3 separate regions of the Homo sapiens genome follow, and regions 1 and 2 are each linked to region 3. The links come from fine-mapping of genetic effects on gene expression. A gene starts in region 3. Each other region holds a variant in brackets. All regions are shown on one strand. Distances are from middle to middle. Region 1 overlaps DNAH9 (dynein axonemal heavy chain 9). Region 2 overlaps MAP2K4 (mitogen-activated protein kinase kinase 4). Region 3 holds the start of MAP2K4 (mitogen-activated protein kinase kinase 4).

Region 1 (4,000 bases), 83 kb before region 3:
CGTGAGCCACCGCGCCCGGCCCGAAAGATATTTTTTAGCAGTTTTTATTGGTAGGCTTTTGAACATGCCTAGAAAAACTCTTGAATATAAAACATAAGGGAAATATTGATCACAGGAATATTAACTGCAAGCTTTAAAAAAATTTCTTTAATTCATTAAACTTAAGGGTAAATCGTAAAAGTCATTTGATCCAGAAAAATTGGACCTATAAGAGGAGATTTAAAACAATAAAGCTCTTTAAGGAAAATAAGAGGAAATGTTTTTAACTACTTCACCAAAGGCAAAAAGGCTTTTCCCGGGAAAATTGTGCAACAGCGTCCCCTAGTGTCCATGGGATAATTCGACAGGAGGCTGGAGCAAGTAACAGGCAAAGGAAGTCTGTTTTTCTTATTCAGCAAGGGTGAAATCGATTTGCACATTTCCAAATGACTGAGGTACACTCTCTTTCTTATACTTCTCTTTAATGTGTTAGTTAATAGATGGTTCTAGGGCATCTACATAGAGTCCAGGCCTGCACAGAACGCTGGAGGAAATACAAAAATGAACATACAGATCGGCCCTTGAGGAATGGGCAATCTATTAGGCTAGGTGTTAATAACACCAAGGAATCGTCAAAATCATATCAGGAACGGAACTTGAGGGATATTTTCCCACCATCGTATAAAGAGCCATGAAGAGGCGCTCAAAACATTCAGAGCCAGGCGCGGTGGCTCCCGCCTGTAATCCCAGAACTTTGGAAAGTCAAGGCTGGAGGATCACTTGAGCTGATGAGTTAGAGACCAGCCCAGGCAACATAGTGAGACCTCATCTCTACAAAAAATAGAAATAAAAAATCGGCTTGAGCATGGTGGCATGTACCTGTATTTCCAGCTACTTGGGAGACTGAGGTGGAAAGCACTTGAGCCTGGGAGGTGGAGGCTTTAGTGAGCTGTGTACTCTACTGTACACTACTGTACTCTAGTTTTTTCAGCAGAGTGAGAGCCTGTCTCACACACACACAATAAAATAAAATAAAATAAAACTGAGCCTTAGCCGCTGGTTAGGATTTTTAGGCATTAGGCATGGCAGACTCTAGCCACTAGCACTGGCCACAGAAAGGAGCTGCTAGGGTGACACATAGTTTCAAAATTTTTTTTATTTGAATACCTTTCACCAGGGGCGCAAACTCTCCAGTTCGCAGCCAATCTCACCTCCTTCGTCCTAAGCCCAATTCACTTGTTTATTTTGCATGTGCCATCCCATGTACATGTTCAGGTTTGTCATATCTGATTTAGATGGAGGGGAGAGAAAAGAAGGAAAGGTCTGGAATCCTAGAAGAGCTTACGTAAAATCACTAGGGAGGGATTCGTATTTTTGAAAGACTATGAGAAGTCCTCCTCTGGTCTGCAGGAAAAAGAGTCATCAGGGAGGAGTGGGAGGCATTGGGTGTGGAGATAGATAAAGTCATCTAAGCCTCCCAGAAAAAAGAGAATGATAGAATGAATGTGGAAGTTTTGGGAAACGGGTCCAGCCGACAAAAATGGATGATGTCAAGGTGCACTAATAGGTGGAGAGGGTGATGAAGTCAACCAGGGATGGTGAGCAGTGTCCCCTGGAGGAGGGATACTAGCCCATGGACTCCCTGCAGAGGACAAGCCGGTGTGGGAGATGGGAGGTACGTCCTGGTTTCTTTTTAAGTGAGCTTGCCCTTGATTTTCAGTACATCGATGCTGAGCTGCCCCCAGAATCCCCCTACCTCTATGGCCTCCACCCGAACGCAGAGATTGGCTTCCTGACCCAAACCTCAGAAAAGCTCTTCCGCACTGTGCTGGAGCTGCAGCCTCGGGACAGCCAGGCCAGAGACGGAGCGGGCGCCACAAGAGAAGAAAAGGTGTGTGTGGTGGGGACTGCCTGAGGTCGTTCTGGGGGACCCCGAGGATCATAGATGCACACCTTTCTCCTGCTGGCCATTTTGGCAGTACACAGCATAGACAACACACAAAGCACCAACCACCTGCAGCCTGGAGATGCTTGCCTGTCACCGCCAAGAGCCTCTCCCCTCCCGTCATCACCATGCTGGCCATCAGTTAAATCATAGGAAGTCCCTGCCATTGGGTTCAGCAGTTTTCTTTGCCAGTCCACCCAAAGTCCATTTTTATTCAGCTTCTCTGCCAAAGTGAAGAAAGGGCAGGGCTGAACAGTGGTGGCTTGGGAACCTTGAATGTGACTTCTTGATCCCCTGGCAAACCAAGCAAGGATGGGTAAGGGGTTGCCCCTGAGCACCCCCACCTCAGTTCACCAACCAGATGCCAGTGGGGAAGAACACAGTCCTTCATAATGCAAACGCCTTCCCTTCGTGTGAATGGCTTCTAGTCCGAGAGTCTCTAAATACACAGTTACCTGCCACTAAGCACAGGACTTCCTGAAATTTTAGGAAGGTGGAAGGGAATTATGGAGTAGAAAGGCAGACCAGGGTGA[G/A]GTGTGGGTTTCAGGACAACCCAAGGCAACATGGGGGCTCTGATCCTGGTGTGGGGGTAGCTGAAGATAAAGAAAGAATGGGCCTCACACCTGTAATCCCAGCACTTTGGGAGGCCAAGGCGGGCAGATCATGAGGTCATGAGTTCGAGACCAGCCTGGCCAACATGGTGAAACCCCATCTCTACTAAAAAATACAAAAATTAGCCGGGTGTGGTGGTGGGCGCCTGTAATCCCAGCTACTCGGGAGACTGAGGCAGGAGAATTGCTTGAACCTGGGAGGTGGAGGTTGCAGTGAGCCAAGACCGTGCCACTGCACTCCAGCCTGGTGACAGAGCAAGACTGTCTCCAAAAAAAAAAAAACAAAAAAAGAATGGGCCACCAAAGGGAAATTTCTCCATGAATTTTTTTCTGAGACAAGCTAACCAACTTCCTAAAGATGTATTTGTACCAACTGACATCCACCCCATGGTACTGCCTGGATTTTTTTTTTAATTTAATTTTTCTAAGAGTAAGATTTCACTCCATCACCCAGGCTGGAGAGTTCAGTGGCATAATCACAGCTCACTACAGCCTGCAACTCCTAACCTCAAGCAATCCTTCCACCTCAGCCTCCTGAGTAGCTAGGACTGCAGGTGTGTACCACCACGCCCTGCTAATTTTTTAACTTTTTGTAGAGACAGGGTCGCACTATGTTGCCTAGGCTAGTCTTGAACTCCTGGGCTGAAGCAATCCTCTCATTTTGACCTCCCAAAGTGCTAGGATTATAGGTGTGAGCCACTGCACCCGGTCCTAGCTGGGTTCTTTAATTTAGAGATGCCATTAGGTTTACAAGTAAACATCCTTGGGAAGATTATCAAACTTTTAGCCTCTAGAGACTGATTTTAGGAAAGCAAACTGATACTAAAAGAGTTGGACTTTTATATAAAGGTATGGAGTCATGTCATCAAAATAGTATTTCTCAAATTTTAATATGCCTAAGAATGTGCCAGAGAGATTGAAATTCTGACTCCGAGGTCTGGGGTTAGGTTGCATTGGCAACCTAGTGATTTTGATGAGGTGAGCATACTTCGAGAAAGCTGCTCCATATCACTCTACTCAGTCTATTCCACTATTTGATGTATAATTTGAAAATAAAGAGAAGAACCCACCCAGAATGAATAATGTTCCTAGATCTAAAACTGGAAAAGGCTGAGACTGTATAAGTAATAGACTTAGAATTCTTCAGTCAAGGTTCAAAGAAGGTTCTAATGCTTATCATTTCCTTATCCCCTCCCCCAGCTAACCCAAGAAATGGGGTGTGTATGTGCTTGTGTATTTCAGAAATGATATGAACTGTGATCACTTGCCATGCACAATGCTGTGTGGGACACGTGTGCAGGTTACTGGGTGCACATCTGATTGTGCAGTATCCCAGTATTTGGCCATGGTGGTGTTTCTCACATAGCTCACATGTTCCTATGAGCTATCTTCCTTCCTGTCCACACCGCAGGTCAGCTCAAGATGAGGGGCAAAGAGTCAAAGCCCAGAGAGTATTTTGTTGTTA
Region 2 (4,356 bases), 50 kb after region 3:
GATGAGTGTTCCAAGTGGAAGGAATCGCATGTATTTGAAATTATCAAGGTGGGAAATATTCAACTTGTCATGGAATGGAAGGAATGGCAGTTCACATGGAGGGTGACTGAATGAGAAAGGAAAAACAAACAAATTTAGATTAAGGGTGTAGAGACAGTTAGGTATGGAGAGATGGGCCACATAATGTAGGGCCTTGTAGATAAAGAGCTGGATGACATCCAAAGTGCAGTGGGGAGTTATGGAAAAGTTGTAAGTAGGTCAGTGATTTACAATTTAAACTGATTATTTACAGTCTAAAGTAATTATTCTGGCTGCCGTGTGGACTATGTACTGAAAGGAGGTAAGAATATAGTTAGGGAGACCTGATAAAACTATGGTAATGTAGGTAAAGCGTAATAGTCACCTATCATGACTTCAATAGTATTAAATTGATGACAGTACATGTAGAGAGACTGTAAAGACATTTTGGAAGTAATTAATAAATATTGGTGATAATTTGAATGTAGATGATGACAAGGAGGAAGGTGTTCATAGTGACTTGTAGAATTCTGGCTTGAATTAATGGGTTTAGTTGCGATTACTGTGATGGAGACTACTGGGTATGGAGCATCTGTAAATAGGGGTCATAGGGCAAGATCGAGTTTTAGATAATATTTAAGTTTGAGGGACCTGTGACATTTTATTAGGGATATCAAAACATACATATATATATTATATATATATATAGCGTGTGTGTATATGTATTTATGTATACATGTGTTTCTGTGCTTATGTGCATGTATCACATACTCTGGTGTTGAAAATATGAGTCTGGTGCCAGAAGTGAAGTTGTAGATTGGAGATAAAAAGTTGAAAATTGCTGCCATATAGATGAAAGGGTTGCCTAGGAAGAGAGTGAGAATGTATTTTGATGAGAAAATTGTGTCCAGGGCTGAGCCCCAAGAAAATCTAACATTTAGAGGTTGGATAGAAGAGGAGGGACAGGCAAAAATTAAAAGATGCTTGATAATTAGGAAGCAAACTGGTAGTGCATGATGTTATAGAAATCTAGCATTGTTTCAAAGTGCAGTTGGGAAGGAATTGTGGTTGGCTATGTCTAATGTTCTGAGAATGCTAGTAAAGCTACCTTGTTGGCAAAAACTCCTGAGATACACTTTAAACTACTCTTAATTTCTTACTTACTTGGGAAGAGGTTTTAGCTGCCACTGGAAATTGGGGCCTAAACAGGGAAAGGATCTCATGAAAACATGTAACCTATAGATTTAGGGCAGTTTTCCTTACCTTTTCTTGAAGAAGCATAGCCCAGAAAAACTGTTCTAAGGGTAAACTTAGAGTACAACTGACACAGGATCAGCTCTTAGGAAACAGTCAATAGCAACATGATGCAAACATGAATGTTTGTCTTGTCCTCTTTAATGTTACTCTTTTCTGTGGTGATAAAACATTTCTTTGTATGTCATAAATCAGTACTACTTCAGAATACTGCAGACTTATCTAATTTGTCTAATACATTCTGTTCACTAAATATGAGTATCAGAATTTGAAATTTTCTATTTAGAATGTTTGAGCCATTCTTCTGGACATTTCATTTTTCAGTTTTTCCTTTTGCCTCATCTTAGATCACAGCAAAGATACTCATTTGTTGGTAGTGCCAGGAAGCAGGCAGTTTCCATGGTAACTGACAGACCGAGTTTACTGTGGAAATTTCCGGAATTAACAGAGCTGCATTGCAGAAGGATGCATAAAGCAGTATTCATCTAGAGATCGTAACAGTACGGACACAGAAGAACAGTTGCAGTGATGTGCAGGGTATGTCTTACCTTTATTTTCCTGTCTAAGGAAGATTAGTCATATATATATATATATATATATATATATATATATATATA[T/C]ATATATATATATATATATATATGCATGCTGAGGAGACAGTAAAACAGCTTGGGGCGTTTTAGTATATGCTGGCTTGATACAGTCAAAGTTGCTTAGGAAAAAGAAGGAAGAAATGATTTGGGAAAGAAGGTATATTTGATAGCATTGGGAAGAAATCAAGATCAGATGATCGAGGTAGAAGAATGTGATAGTGAAATAAGAGGAGAAAACATACTTCAAACTAATTAAATAATAAAAGGTTCTTACGGATAGTGGTTCTAGGCACAAGAAGATATTTATTTATTTATTGAAGGAAAATAGTAGACATTGTCAAGTTTGAGAAATCAAGTTCTCATGTGCAGGAAAAAGAAATCTGTTAAGATAATTAGCTATTACTTGCTGAAAGATAGGTAGATATGAGAGATGTCCAGGATATTAAACAAGGAGGTTTGCTGCCATCTTAGCGTACTTACCTAAGTGATGAGAGAATCCTAGAAGGGTTTCTGCCCCTAATTCCACTCTCTGTTGATTGGTGGGCCATTTTCAAGAAAAATTCTGAAATGTATCTTGAGATTAAATTCTGGAAACAGAACTATAGGATTTGGGCAGATAATTGAAGGTGCTTATCATATAGAGCATAATTATAAATGTAAAAGAGAAAAAGGATATAGAAAATATGATTTAGATTATTTGCATGATAGATGCAATTTAGGTTGCTAGATACCATTTGGTATCATTTATATCATGTAGTCAGCAAACTACAGCTCATGAGCTGAATCCATCCTGTTTGCTTGTTTTTGTAAGTAAAGTTTTATTGGAACATAGCCACACCCATCTGGCTGCATAGTTGCAGGAGACTAGTGGCTTGCAAAGCCTAAAATATTTGCTATCTGGTTCTTTACAGAAAAAGGTTGTGACTCATGATTTAGATGGTGTACTGGATTTTTCAAGGCTTCTGTGAGATTACCACAAACTTGGTGGCTTAAAACAACAGAAATTTATTCTCTCACAGTTCTAGAGGCCAGAAATCTGAAGGTGTTGGCAGGGCCATGCTTCTCCCGAAGGTTCTGGGGGAGGATCCCCCCTTTCTTTCAGCTTCTGGTACTGCTGCTCTTCCTTGGCTTGTGGCAGCATAACCGTAATCTCTATGGTCTTCTTCCCTGTGTCTGTCTTGTGCATCTCTATCTTCTCCTTTTCTTTGTTTGGTCTCCTATAAGGATAGTTATTTTATTTAGTGCCCACCTAATCCAGAATCTCTTTTTTGAGATCTTTAATTTTATCCGTAAAGATAGGTTACTTTCTGAGATTCTGGATGGACCTATCTTTTTTTTGTGTGGTGGGTGGTGTATAGTTCACCCTACTACAGATGGTATTGAAGAACTGGGTTTTGGCTTCTTAAATCACATTGTATATTAAGGATAGCCAGTTCTTAGTGTTTCCTTTGACCTGCTGGAGAAGATATTAAACTCACATTTCAAAGGCAAGGTGATAGAGGCATAGTTGAATCATAGAAGATAGCCTTTGTGACACAAACATAAGCAGTAGAGTAAAGGGAGTACTAGAAAATTCATAGGAGAAAGAGTACTAAAATATTCACTGGAGACGGATGAAGACCAGTGCCTGATGCTTCATATCGTTCTCTTCTTGTCTCTTCATATTTTTCTCACCCTAACTCCCACCTCCAAAAAAACAACAAAATGAATTTGAAATTTTAATGAAAAATGGTTGGCACAAAAACAAAAATCACAGTTTTGAGGAATGGCTCATCGCTAAATTACGGCACTGGGAAATATATATATATGATTCAAAAGAAGTAGACTTAATAAGCAAGTAGAGGAGTGGCAGTGTAGAAGGTACACACCAATGTATAGACCAGTGAACCTGAGATTTGGCTTTTGTTGAGAGCCTTTTTGTCATTGTGGGAGTATACAAACTATTGGCCTGGGCAGGAGAGAAGGTCTGTGACATTTTCCTCTTCTCATATGGGCATATTTGTAAACCATAATAACAGTGGTAGGTATCTATTTGCATTCCCTGGAAGTCTCATTTACTGTATTTGGGTATATTCTGAAATGTTTAAAAAGTGATGAATTCACATGGTGAAGAATCAAATAGTAGGCAAGGGATTCCAATGTAGACGCTGGAGCTGCAGAGAAAAGCCACCTTATATTGCCTATATTCTCACCTGCGCACTTTGAAATGAAGCTTCTGATACAGACTTCATGGAGATGATCATAGAAGAATTAAATAGAAATGGTTAATCCAAATTAGGGTTCACTAAGAGTAAGTAAGCAGTTCCAAACTAGCCTAATATACTTTTTTGAAAGTGTTACTAGGACTGTAGATCAGGAGTTTGGAACAGACTAGGTGTATCTTGATTTCAACATTTATGGGCACAGAGGAGGAACATGAAGCCCAATACAGTATTTTCAGGAAGTTTCTTAGAAGGACAAGAGTGAAGTCTGCGTTTTCTTTCTAATCAAATTC
Region 3 (4,000 bases):
GCCCACTCGTATGACCTCATTTTACTTTAAAGACCCTATTTCCAAATATAGTCCCATTCTGAGATGCTGGGGGTTAGGACTCCAACATGTAAATTTGGTGAGGGAGCAGAATACAATTTAGTCCATAAGAAATCATAAAACACAAATATGTAAGAGAAATGTGAGCATAAGAAAAAGTTAAAAAGCTCATACATAGCTTCCTCAGTTGGAACAAATCAAAGTGCTTTCTTGTTTTTGCCATATGCACATCTAATTATTGGCTCTTACTAGTTTACAATACCAACAGCAATGCAAGTATATGTCAGTTTTATCACAAACTCAGAATTAGGTATTCTTAAAAATAAGATTAGTTATATTTTTATTGTATTTCTCTTTTAATTCAGTTTCCCAATTTCCCTTAATGAATTTGCTAGGTTGAAGGTTTTCCTATATATATATAAATATAACTATATATATACATATTTTTTTTAATAGATGGAGTCTTGCTCTGTCACCCAGGCTGGAGTGCAGTGGCACAATCTCGGCTCACTGCAACCTCTGCCTCCCAGGTTCAAGCGATTCTCCTGCCTCAGCCTCCCTAGTAGCTGGGATTATAGGTACCTGCCACCACACCGGCTAATTTTTGTTTTTTTCTGTATTTTTAGTAGAGACAGGGTTTCACCACGTTGGCCAGGCTGGTCACTAACTCCTGACCTCACGTAATCCACCCGCCTTGGCCTCCCAAAGTGCTGGGATTACAGGTGTGAGCCAACATCCCCAGCCTTCTTTAATATATGTTATTTATAATATTGGATGTGTGTGTGTGTGTGTGTGTGTGTGTGTGTGTGTGTGTGTGTTTAAATTAATTTTCTAGTAGTTGCCTAATCTGTAGTGCTGCTTCTAGGATTTCTATTAAAAGAATATATATTAAATTCTTATTAAAGGCCAGTTATGATGGCTCATAATTAAGATGCCCTAGGAGCAACAAGAGCTGGGTGGGCTACTGATTTCCAGATGGGAATCTGGCCATGTTTATAAGACCTGGACTTGAAGATATTGGGCAGCCAACGAGGCCCATGGAGGAGAATTCTGGCGGGCTCTCCACTGAAGTACACCTACCTGCTCTCACCTTCAATTTGCCTTTAATGCCTCTCCACTTGATGTTTACGGCTAGCCACTTTTAGGATCTGAGCCATCAAGATGATGGATGAAATTGGGTTTGGAACAAGAAGGCAGGGCTATTTTGACCCAGGACACATTTCCAACATGCTGTGAAGAACTCTCAGCATCAAATAACATCTGGGTGGAAGAAGTTTTGGGAAAGAAGTCTAGCTGTAGATCACACAATGCTTCTAAATGGGAGAAAATGTCCAGCTCCATGGCTTAGATTCTTTGGGAAGTAGGATAACTGGCTATTCCATTTTAGGCAAGGCTGCCTGGCCAGAAACCCATGTCTTACCATTTCGAGTACATTATGGTTGGCTTACAAATCGTAGCCTCATAGAGAACTTTTTCTTCTTTTAGCTACTGTCTTCCTAAAATAAAAGTCTCTGTGCAAAGCAATGGAAGAAACCTCATATTGTTTTTTGGGGTTGTCATTTTATGTAACTTACAATAATGACTACGGCTCGTCTTATACAAGATGTAAAGGATTTGGGAGAGGGAATCCAGTGTGCATTTAGGGGAAGATGGTGATGTAGATAGCATATTTCAGGAGGCTGGGAAGTGTCGAGTGCTTAAATATATGCTTCTCAAATTTAATGGGCATACAAATTACCTGGTGGTATTATTAAAATGTAACCTCTAATTCAGTAGTTTTGGGATGGGTCCATGGACAGCACTTTGGTTAGTTCCCCTTGGGACTCCCCTTTCCCCTCAGAGAAGTGTAGAGGGTTGGGGTATTGGGCTTAAGAGGAGTTCCAGACTGTAACCATAGCTCTAGGTAACTCCCTTCTGGAAGTGATGTGTTAGCGACTGGAGGAGAAAGGGATCCCTGGGATCCTTTTCAGCTTTACTATTCTGATTTGGGGTTCTGAGATTCCAACAAAGTGGACTTTTGGGAGTCACAGACCTCCATGGGAATGATGAAAGCTGCGTACCTTCTTTCCGCACAAATGCAGGCCCACCTTTAATTCTGCAAACCACTTTAGGCCCCGCGGGCCCGCAGCCCTGGTCCAAGACAGCTGTCTGCTTCACAGGTCGCGCACCCAGAGCCGGGCGGTTCTGCAGCTCAGCATCTGGCCCGGGCTGCGCGTCGGGCTCTGGCGGGGGCGTGTCAGGAGGCGTGTCCGGGGCGTGTCGGAGGCGGGGCCAAGGCGGGGGTAAGCCTCGCCCCTCGGCCGTGCGAGAGGCCGAGCTTGCTGCATTGCAGCCGCCGCGGCGCCGCTCGGCTCTTCACTCCCAACAATGGCGGCTCCGAGCCCGAGCGGCGGCGGCGGCTCCGGGGGCGGCAGCGGCAGCGGCACCCCCGGCCCCGTAGGGTCCCCGGCGCCAGGCCACCCGGCCGTCAGCAGCATGCAGGGTAAGGAACGCGGCCGCGCCGAGATCCCAGCCCCCTAGCGCGGCAACCCGCGTCGTCGCGGCCTGCCCCAGCGGACGCCCCCGGACCCGGCTGAGGAAGCCACGGCAGCCGCCGGCTTCTCCCTCTCTCCCTCCCCGGCTTCCCGCCCCGCTCCCGGCCGCCTCCGGCCCGGCTTGGATCCGGGCTCCGGCCCGCATAGGCCCCGGCCGCGGCCTCTGCCTGCGCTTGGCCCCTGGGCCCTACCGGGCTCTCAGCAGGCCCGCAGGGCCCACCTGGTCCGGGACCGCCCCCGCGGCCGTCCCCATCGCCCCCGCCGCTTACCTGGCGCCCGCCCGGCCCCCGTTTCCGGGAACGCGCCGGCTCGGGGCTGCGGCGGAGCGGGAGGGGCGTCGGGCCTGCCCCCTGGTCCCTGACGCCGCTCAGGTAGGCGGCGAAGACAGCGGCCCCGGCCGGCGCCCCTCGGCCCCGCCGCCGCAGTGGGCCCCGCTCAGGGCCATCTTGGCTGTCGCCGGGCACAGCTGGAGCCGGACCACCGAGCTGACCTCGGGCTACGGGGGCCTCTTGGAACCTGCGTTTTCAAACTTTTGCAGGGTTTCTGTGCGCTGGAAGGGATGGGGGTGGGGGGCGGGTTGCCCAGGCCTGTGCCACCTGTAAGGTAGGTAGGCTGCATTGGCCTGGGAGAGGCATTTTGTTCCAGGCCAGGGATTTCTGTGTTAGCATTGCGTGCAGGAAGAAAAAAAAAAAAAAAAAAAAAGAAGACTTAATTTGGTTTAAATGGAGAGATACAGGAAATAGACAGGGGTCAAAGTGATACTGTAGTGTCTGGACATTTGAGGCAGCTCTGCTAATTAATGACTTTCCCCACTGGGAATGCTTATTAGCTGTGTATGGCTTTTGACAGGGGGTGTTGTGAAAATACCAGGCCAGGCCCGAGCCTGTTAGGGACCATTTCCTTAAATTTACTGGGGAATTTTGAGTAGTAATGCTATTTTTAAAACAGGGAATCTCAGAACTCTCTTGACAACTTTAGCAAACTGCTTGTGTTGAATTATTAACAGAATAAGGGTTGGGGTACCCTTGGTAGTCAGTGTGACCATGGTTACTTTTTGATTCCATTCCTCTTAAAGGGCTTCTAGCATTTAGTTAGGTTCAACAGACATTTATTGAATAGTTCATGTTTATAGAGCATGCCATAATTCAGAAAGAAGAGACAGGATTTTATTTATCTTTACATCCCTGTCACCCTCCCCATGAAATAATTTTAATATACATAAAAACCAGTGATAGATATATAGACAGGATGATGTCAGAGCTTAGAGGACACTTTCTGTGCAGGCCCTCAGATAATTCATTCAAATTGAATTAGTTATTGGATGCCCACTGTGTTGCACAGCACATTATACTGATGAAGTATAAGATTGACTTCCTGACTGTACAGCTTTACAATTTAGGTGGTGGTGGTTGGGGCGAAATGAAATGGCAAAATGACAATTTAGGATT

What was found. PIP is the estimated chance that this variant, and not a neighbour inherited with it, causes the effect.
Region 1: its variant is the best candidate, but not a certain one, in a credible set for the expression of MAP2K4 in whole blood (INTERVAL, PIP 0.67).
Region 2: its variant is the best candidate, but not a certain one, in a credible set for the expression of MAP2K4 in whole blood (INTERVAL, PIP 0.63).

What each region holds. Positions count from the first base shown.
Region 1 is chr17:11,935,653-11,939,652 of GRCh38, forward strand. DNAH9 (dynein axonemal heavy chain 9) reads left to right here. Exons shown (of 69, transcript NM_001372.4): 66 at 1,700-1,870. Among named protein-coding and RNA genes, the nearest start is that of ZNF18, 60 kb to the right of the region's middle. The variant G/A (reference allele first, on the strand shown) is at 2,458.
Region 2 is chr17:12,068,041-12,072,396 of GRCh38, forward strand. All of the region lies in intron 2 of MAP2K4 (mitogen-activated protein kinase kinase 4), which reads left to right. Among named protein-coding and RNA genes, the nearest start is that of MIR744, 12 kb to the right of the region's middle. The variant T/C (reference allele first, on the strand shown) is at 1,890.
Region 3 is chr17:12,018,502-12,022,501 of GRCh38, forward strand. It overlaps MAP2K4 (mitogen-activated protein kinase kinase 4), which reads left to right and starts at 2,376. Exons shown (of 11, transcript NM_003010.4): 1 at 2,376-2,500. The coding sequence starts at 2,386. It also overlaps a transcript of ZNF18 not described here. RefSeq lists an enhancer at 2,176-2,676 and a silencer at 2,213-3,092.